3 separate regions of the Homo sapiens genome follow, and regions 2 and 3 are each linked to region 1. The links come from fine-mapping of genetic effects on gene expression. A gene starts in region 1. Each other region holds a variant in brackets. All regions are shown on one strand. Distances are from middle to middle.

Region 1 (2,741 bases):
TGAGCCTCTCGCCTTGGCCTCCGAAAGGACTGGGATTACAGGCTTGAGCCACTGCACCCGGCCTCATTTTATTTTTATAGAGACAGGGTCTCTCACTATTTTGCCCAGGTTGGTCTTGAATTCCTGGACTCAAATGCTCCTCCTGCCTTGGCCTCTCAAAGTGCTGGGATTACAGGCCTGAGCCACCATGGCCAGCCTCTTTCATTTCAAAATTGAAGAAAGAAAGTGAAGATACAAGCTACATTAAATGATGGTATGCACGCACATGTATCTTCTAGGAAGAACATTATTCAGTCAAATAATCGAGGTTCTCTCAGGCAACCTCTCTGGAAGGTTTGCTTGTATGTCTAGTGGTAGATGCCCCAAATCCCCAAAGAAGAAAGCAGGGAGTGGTGTGGAAGGGGTTGCCATGTGGAGATGAATTGCATTCAGTTTTCTATCTTTTAAGTTTTATTTTTACTTACATGGCCGGGCACAGTGGCTTATTATGCCTGTAATCCTAGCACATTTGGGGGCCAAGGCGGGAGGATCACTTGAACCCAGGAGTTTGAGAGCAGCCTGGTCAATACAGTGAGACCCTGTCTCTTAAAAAATTATTTTTTAAATAAATAAATGTTATTTTTTTACTTAGATGGAGACAGAGTCTCCCTCTATTGCCCAGGCTGGTCTTGAACTCCTGGTCTCATGTGATCTTCCTACCTGGGCTTCCCAAAGTGTTGAGTAAATTACAGGTGTGAGCCACTGAGCCCAGCCAGTTTTCTTTCAAAGGAAAAAGAACTGGTTGTCGAGTTCCTTCCGAGAAGGCAAAAGACAGCTGAGCAGGGCAAGAAAGCCGTGCCTTTGGGAGGAGCAGAGTTCATGGTCTAATTCCTGTTGCTTTAGCCTCCGATTGTTACTTGCGGGGAGAGCCGATAACATCGGATGGGTACAGGGCTGCGGAACTGGAGCGCCTTGGCTATTTACACTGACCTGGAAAATGTCAGGATAAATGACAGAAGGCGGGGGTTGGTGACTGCACTCCTTCTAGAAGTCTCAACGCTTTGTGGGTATTGAGTTGTGTTTTTTCCCCCTCACGGTTGACTTGTCACTAAGTCACTAAGGATGGCCTGTAAATGGGGTGACGGCTGGGGGAAGGGAGGACCTTAAAGTGAGACAGGCACCCCCACACAGGTCACAGTTTAAAAGACGATGGTTCAGACCGTTATGCGAAATGATCTCAGAGCGGCTGTTCACCTTCCCCAAAGCTGCATTAAAAGAAATAAGGATGGGTGACAACCCCTTTAGAAGACAGACCCCCACACTGAGGCTAGCCCTCTTATCGGCTGGCCAGGGCGAGGAGGGGTGTGTGCAGGGTCGCCCTCGATGCCGCAGCCGGGGCCAGTGGGCACGAATGCGGCCCCACGCCAGGCTTGGCCTCCGAACCCGCTAGGCGCGCGCGCACGGTAGAAGCGCGCGCCTCCGTCCCTCGCGAGCGCGCCCCCCACCCCTCTCCGTCGCACGCGCCGAGCCCCGGCGCCCCCGCCCGCCCCGCGCTCCCACAGCCCGAGCGCCGCTCAGCTGACCCGCGGGCGCCAGACGCGGCGGCTCTCAGCTCGCGAGCGCAGCTGCGGCTGCGAGGGCCTCTCAGGCCGACACTCCCCCCGCGCCCCTCCCCCACCCGGCCGGGCTCCGGACCCGCCGCGCGCGAGCCCGCGGCCGCTTCCCCCGCGCCGAGCGAGGAGGCAGGCTGCGGCGGCGAGAGGCGGCTGCGCGGCCATGGGCGCGCCAGTGTCGCCCTAGGGCGGGCGCACAGACCACAGCCGGAGCGGTGGTGGCAGCCTCCGCAGAAAGCCTTCCCGGGCGGCGGCGGCGGCGGCCCCTGGAGCAGCGCGGCCGGGATGAGCGGGAGCTGCGCGGCGCCCGGCCCGGGCTCGGGCTCCTCCCCGGCCGCCTGCCGCTTCGCGCACTACTTCGTGCTGTGCGGGATCGACGCGGACAGCGGGCTGGAGCCTGACGAGCTGGCGGGTAAGGCCAGGGCTGCGGCGGCGCTGAGCCCCCTCAGGGGCGCGGGGGACGCTGTGGGGACGCGCGGGAGGCGGGGTGCAGGCTCCAGACAAAGTCAGCTCCCGGTGGCGCCCTCCCGCCGCTTTCTGGCCGAACTGGCGCTCGGGCGCGATTTAATGACATTGTTATTTATTCCGCGTGCGGGCTTTGCGGCTGCGCCCACCGGGGCTTTCGCCTCCAGGCGCTGGGTTATTAATAACAGGCGCGGGGGTGGCCCCAAGGGCACGGACCCCGCCTGGCGCGCCGGCCCCTTCGCTTGCAGCCGCACTCGGAGGCGGCCGGTGAGTCACCGGGCGCGCGGGCTGCCCCCCGACCGCCGTGCCTGCCTCCCACCCGCCAGCCACCCGGCCCCGGCCGCGAAGTTTCGGCCCCGCACGTGACGCGGCTTTCGGGCCTCTTCGGGAGACGGGGAGTCGGACTCAGCTCGGCTCCCGCCGGGGTAGCGTCCGCGGAGGAGCCGGTGGCCGTGCGGAGCGAGCGCGGGGCGGGGACCGGTCGGACTCTGCCCTCTGCGCCGCCTGCCGCTCTGCGGTGCCGGCCAAGTCACCTTTTGGAATCCTGTGGATTTGGCCGCGTCTGGGAGCTGGCAGGGACCTTTGGACGCTCGGGACCCAGCACCGCGCTTTGTTGACACTGCCTACACTGTTCCCGAGTTTAAATTCAGTTGGGTGCACCGTGTGTTAGTGCCTGGTTTTCCC
Region 2 (2,760 bases), 56 kb before region 1:
CGCCTGTAATCCCAGCTACTTGGGAGGCTGAGGCAGAGGTTGGCATGAGCCAATTGCACGCCACTGCACTCCAGCCTAGGTGACAAAGCGAGACTCCGTCTCCAAAAAAAATACAACTATTGGTCGGGCGTGGTGGCTCATGCCTGTAATCCCAGCACTTTGGGAGGCTGAGGCAGGCGGATCACAAGGTCAGGAGTTCAGGACCAGCCTGACCAACATGGTGAAACCCCGTCACAGGGCTGGGCGCGGTGGCTCACGCCTGTAATCCCAGCACTTTGGGAGGCCAAGGTGGGCAGATCACAAGGTCAGGAGATCGAGACCATCCTGGCTAACATGGTGAAACCCTGTCTCTACTAAAAATACAAAAACTTAGCCAGGCGTGGTGGTGGGCCCCTGTAGCCCCAGCTACCTGGGAGGCTGAGGCAGGAGAATGGCTAGAACCCGGGAGGCAGAGCTTGCAGTGAGCCGAGATTGCGCCACTGAACTCCAGCCTGGGAGACAGCGAGACTCCGTCTCAAAAAAAAAAAAAAAAAAAAAAAAGAAACCCATCTCTACTAAAAATATAAAAATTAGCTGGGCATGGTGGTCCATGCCTATAATCCCGGCTACTCAGGAGGCTGAGGCAGGAGAATCGCTTGAACCTGGGAGGCGGAGGTTGCAGTCAACTGAGATGGTGCCATTGCACTCCAGCCTGGGCAAAAGAGCGAGACTCCATCTCAAAAAAAAAAAAAAAAAAACTATTTACATCATATTCAACATTATAATCTACAGATGATTTAAAGTAATTATGCAAATACTACATCATTTTATATAAGGAACTCAAGCATCCATGGATTTTGATATCCTCAGGGGTCCTGAAACGAATCCCCTGTGGATACTGAAGGACAATTGTACTACATTCCTTTTGTGGCTAAATAATATTCCATTATGTGAATATTCAGTACTATATTGTGTTTCTCCATTCATCTGTGATAAACATTAAGGTGGTTTCCACTTTCTGGCTATTATGAATAATGCCACTATAAACATTAATGTACACATTTATGTGGAGACATATGCTTTCAATTCACTTGGGTATATACCTAGGAATGGAAGTGCTGGGTGATATAGTAACTCTATGCTCAAATTATTTAGGAATTGCCAGACTGTCTTCCAAAGTGACTGCACAATTTTACATTCTCACCAGCAATTTATGAAGGTTCCAATTTCTCCACATTCTTATCAACACTTGTTTTTT[T/G]TTTGTTTGTTTGTTTTCTTTGGTTTTGTTTTGAGATGGAGTCTCCCTCTGTCACCAAGGCTGGAGTGCAGTGGCGTGATCTTGGCTCACTGCAACCTTCGCCTCCCGGGTTCACGTGATTCTCCTGTCCCAGCTTCCCGAGTAGCTGGGATTACAGGCACCTGCCACCACACCTGGCTAATTTTTGTATTTTTAGTAGAGACGGGGTTTTGCCATGTTGGCCAGGCTGATCTCGAACTCCTGACCTCAGGTGATCCACCCGCCTCAGTCCCACAAAGTGCTGGGATTACACGCGCCCAGCCCCTAAATTACCTCTTTAAGCTTCAAAATAAGCATAGGATGTAGGTATACTATTATGACCTCTGTTTTAGAGGTAAAGAAGTGAAGTCACAGGAAGGTTCAGTAACTTGCCTGAGGGCTCATAAATAGCTGGCAGTAGAGTTGGGATGACACACATGTCGTCTGGTTCCAGAGCTGCACTTAAACACAGGACGTAGACTCGGTAATGAGAAAGAGGAAGCTATTTCAAGCACGAGCCAAAGGCAGGGATTTACAAGTTCATTGCAGAAAATAAACAGCCCAGTCTGACTACGAAGAGCACTCACCGGAGCCAGGTTGCGGGAGATGAAATGAGGATAGGGTGAGGCAGGCTGGTGGAGGGCCTGGACTGTGAGGCTTAGAGGCTTGGATTCCATTAAGAATATTAATTGGGAGTCATGGTTGGTTGGTGTGTGGTCAAGGGAACAATAAAACAAAAACAGCAGCTCAGTGGCTGTCGACATGTTAATGGCCTTTGAAAATAAAGTATACAAACAATGAGTGGCAGGAAGGCGAAAAGAAAGCTTTCTCATCACCAAGCTCAAACTACTCTGCATTATAATTACACAATATAAAAAGATGGAGGATCATGCCTGTAATCTCAGCACAAGATCCTTAGGGAGGCTAAGGTGTGAGGACTGTTTGAAGCCAGGAGTTTGAAACCAGCCTGGGCAACATAGCGAGGCTTTGTGACAAAAAATACGAAAATTCCAGCCTGGGCAACATAATGAAACCTGGTCTCTACAAAAATTGTAAGAACTAGCTGAGCATGGTGGTGCACACCTGTCATCCCAGCTACTCAGGAGGCTGAGGCAGGAGGATCACCTGAGCCCAGGAGGTTGATGCTGCAGTAGCCATGTTCAAGCCACTGCACTTTAGCTTGAAGGACAGAGCAAGATGCTGTCTCTAAGAAACAAAACGAAACAAAAAAAGGCTGGGCGAAGTGGCTCACGCCTGTAATCCCAGCACTTTGGGAGGACAGGGTGGGCAGACCACGTGACATCAGGAGGTCAAGACCAGCCTGGCCAACATGGTGAAACCCCATCTCTACTAAAAATACAAAAATGAGCTGGGCGTGGTGTCATGTGCCTGTAATCCCAGCTACTTTGGAGGCAGAGATTTGAAAATTATTTGAACCCGGGAGGTGGAGGCTGCAGTGAGCCAAGATCATGCCACTGCACTCCAGCCTGGGCGACATTGCAAGA
Region 3 (2,760 bases), 120 kb after region 1:
TTTGAAGTCATAACAATCCTGGGTTCAAATGTCTACTCTGTCATTTATTAACTATACCCATGGGCGAGTTAGGTAATCCTCCTGTGTGACAGTTGCCACATCTCTATAGGGATAATAGTTTGGGTTTTTTTTTTTTCTCCTTTCTCACTGATCTATTATGACAATTAAATAAGAAAACGTGTATAAAATACTTAGGGTATAATTGACACTGACTAAATGATAGCTGATGCTATTATAATAATTACTAGTTTTATTAGTCCCATATAATCTTCTATAAATTACACTTATCTCTAAGTTGTGAAGGTTCAACATATTACTACATTTAACATAAAACCTTTTTAAATGATACAGTCAAGAGTTTATTCCAGAGTTGAGAACCTAATAAATGTTCTTTTATATTGTATACCATGCTTTTTTTAGAAGGCAAAAAAAAACTCCAAAAGCTTCCATTATCACACTTCCTCTTTTATTTTTTATTTTTATTTTTTTTTATTGAGACGGAGTCTTGCTCTGTCACCCAGGCTGGAGTGCAGTGGCGCAATCTCAGCATATTGCAACCTCCACCTCCTGGGTTCAAGCGATTCTCGTGCCTCAGCCTCCCAAGTCCCTGGGACTACAGGCGCGCACCACCATGCCTGGCTAATTTCTTTGTATTTTTAGTAGAGATGAGGTTTTGCCATGCTGGCTAGGCTGGTCTCGAACTCCTGACCCTAGGTGATCTGCCTGCCTTGGCCTCCCAAAGTGCTGGGATTACAGGTGTAAGCCACCGCACCCGGCCCACACCTCCTCTTTTAAGTAGCAGGTTATGTCTCACCGTTTGTGGTCTGTCCTGAGCTCTCCTATTTCTGCTCTTTTTTTGTTTGTTTGTTTTGAGACAGGGTGTCACTCTGGTGCCCAGGCTGGAATGCAGTGACATGATCGTAGCTCACTGCAACCTCAAACTCCAGGGCTCAAGCAACCTTCACCCCTCAGCCTCCTGAGTAGCTGGGACTACAGGCATGCATTACCATACCTGACTAATGTTTTTTATTTTTAGTGGAGATGAAGTCTCACTACACTGCCCAGGCTGGTTTGAAACTCCTGGGCTCAAGCGATCGTCCTGCCTCAGCTTCCCAAAGTGTAGGGTTTACAGGTGTGAGCCACTGCTTAGCTTGTCCTGTTTGGTTTGTGGAGTCTGTTCAGGAGTTTTAGCTCATTAATATCTACCAATTTATTTCAGTTTCAAATGAAGAAGAATAAGCATTTATGGATATGGTTTTATACTCTATTTTTTTGTAATCTGTATGCCGAGAACAACAGAGTGAATCCTGAGATTATAGAGCTAGATTTTTAAAAAATTTAAAGTGACATACCCCAAAAAATTGCCATACAGTAAATTTATAACCATTCACTAAAATCACTCTATGTTAGGAATTGTGCTACAAAAAGGCATTGTATATTTTGGATCTTTTCCCTACATTTAATCCTCTCAACAGCAGTG[A/G]GTTAGTGCTGTTGTGCATTTTTTGTTGAGGAGGAGATTGAGGCTTGGGGAAACTAAGTAATCTGCCCAAGATGATACAGCTAGTAAGTAATGTAGTACTACTAAGAATTGGGTTTCATCAGTCTTTTTTCAGATGCTTAACCACTGTGTTAACTGTATTGGGCACTGCACTTAACCTCTCCTTATCTGTCTCAATATTTATTTTTAAATGATTAACTCATTCTGTGGGTCTATTGTAAAGGTGTCATGCGAAGTAATTGTAGAGTATAAAATGAAAGCGCTGTGTAAATCTAGATTTTAATATTGACAATGTCTCTTCTATTAGAGAAAAATATTTCAGTTAAATGAATGAAATAGGTGTCCTTATGTTGATTTGTACTTGGGTGCCCTCCTTTACTCTTCTTAACTGTGTTAAGGGGGTTTTAATAACATGTGATACTTCATTTCTTACTCACTGATAAAGCTATGCCATAAATTTAAAAACATTGCGTGTGCTGAAGAGTTACCATGAAAACCCAAAGTGAATCAAAGTAGGTGGATTTCAGTGATGAAAATGTCCTTCTAGACTGATTTGAAATTCTGATCCACAGCCCATTTAAACCAATTCAATCTGTTATTTAGGAAATGCATATATCACTGTCACTTTGCAGTGGTAACTAGCTAGAAATTCTAAGTAGAGAAAATGTACCCAGGATGTGAAGGCTCTTTTCTAGGACCCCAGATCAGAAATGGGCACTTTGTTCTGCAACTGGGAAATACCTGGAGCAGCACAGTATGAAAATCAGAGTATGATTCTTTTTTCAAAGAACTAGTGGAAGAATAAAAGGGGAATTTAAACACCATTGTCTAACTTTTGATACCAATAATTGAAGTCTAAGAAACATTTTTGGGCCTTGCTTACCTCCTTTGGTTCTTCATAGTGGAAATAAACCACTACCCACACCACACTGCATGCCTGTGTGCCTTTGCAGTGCTTGTCTGCCATCCCTCTGTTCGTTTCATTCCTCTTTGAGTTGTATGTGAATTAACCTTGTCAGAAGGTGGAAGCTACTTAAAGTTTTCTTGAAAAAGTTGGGAGCTTTCTCATCACAAATTGCTAGGCATGCTCAAGTGGACATCATAGTTCTCCTTGGAACTGCCATCCATAAACCAAACAGTACTTTGCTGGTCAACTGAGAGGTATTTATAGGGCATTGTCCAAGTGACAATTAAATGCAGAAGGTTCTCCTACAGTTCCAAAGTCAGTCCAAGGGAAAAAGAGGCTCCCTATATGTGAGAAT

Evidence for each region. PIP is the estimated chance that this variant, and not a neighbour inherited with it, causes the effect. A credible set is the group of variants that fine-mapping cannot tell apart.
Region 2: its variant is the best candidate, but not a certain one, in a credible set for the expression of DENND5B in whole blood (INTERVAL, PIP 0.62).
Region 3: its variant is the best candidate, but not a certain one, in a credible set for the expression of DENND5B in whole blood (TOPMed, PIP 0.73).

Annotation. Positions count from the first base shown.
Region 1 is chr12:31,589,969-31,592,709 of GRCh38, reverse strand. It overlaps DENND5B (DENN domain containing 5B), which reads left to right and starts at 1,574. Exons shown (of 21, transcript NM_144973.4): 1 at 1,574-2,004. The coding sequence starts at 1,878. DENND5B-AS1 (DENND5B antisense RNA 1) reads right to left here. Exons shown (of 3, transcript NR_046909.1): 1 at 2,591-2,741. RefSeq lists an enhancer at 764-993 and silencers at 1,424-1,713, 1,784-2,053, 2,204-2,543.
Region 2 is chr12:31,646,338-31,649,097 of GRCh38, reverse strand. All of the region lies in intron 1 of LOC124902913 (a long non-coding RNA gene), which reads left to right. It also overlaps a transcript of ETFBKMT not described here. Among named protein-coding and RNA genes, the nearest start is that of ETFBKMT, 12 kb to the left of the region's middle. The variant T/G (reference allele first, on the strand shown) is at 1,238.
Region 3 is chr12:31,473,860-31,476,619 of GRCh38, reverse strand. All of the region lies in intron 3 of DENND5B (DENN domain containing 5B), which reads left to right. Among named protein-coding and RNA genes, the nearest start is that of LINC02387, 110 kb to the right of the region's middle. The variant A/G (reference allele first, on the strand shown) is at 1,481.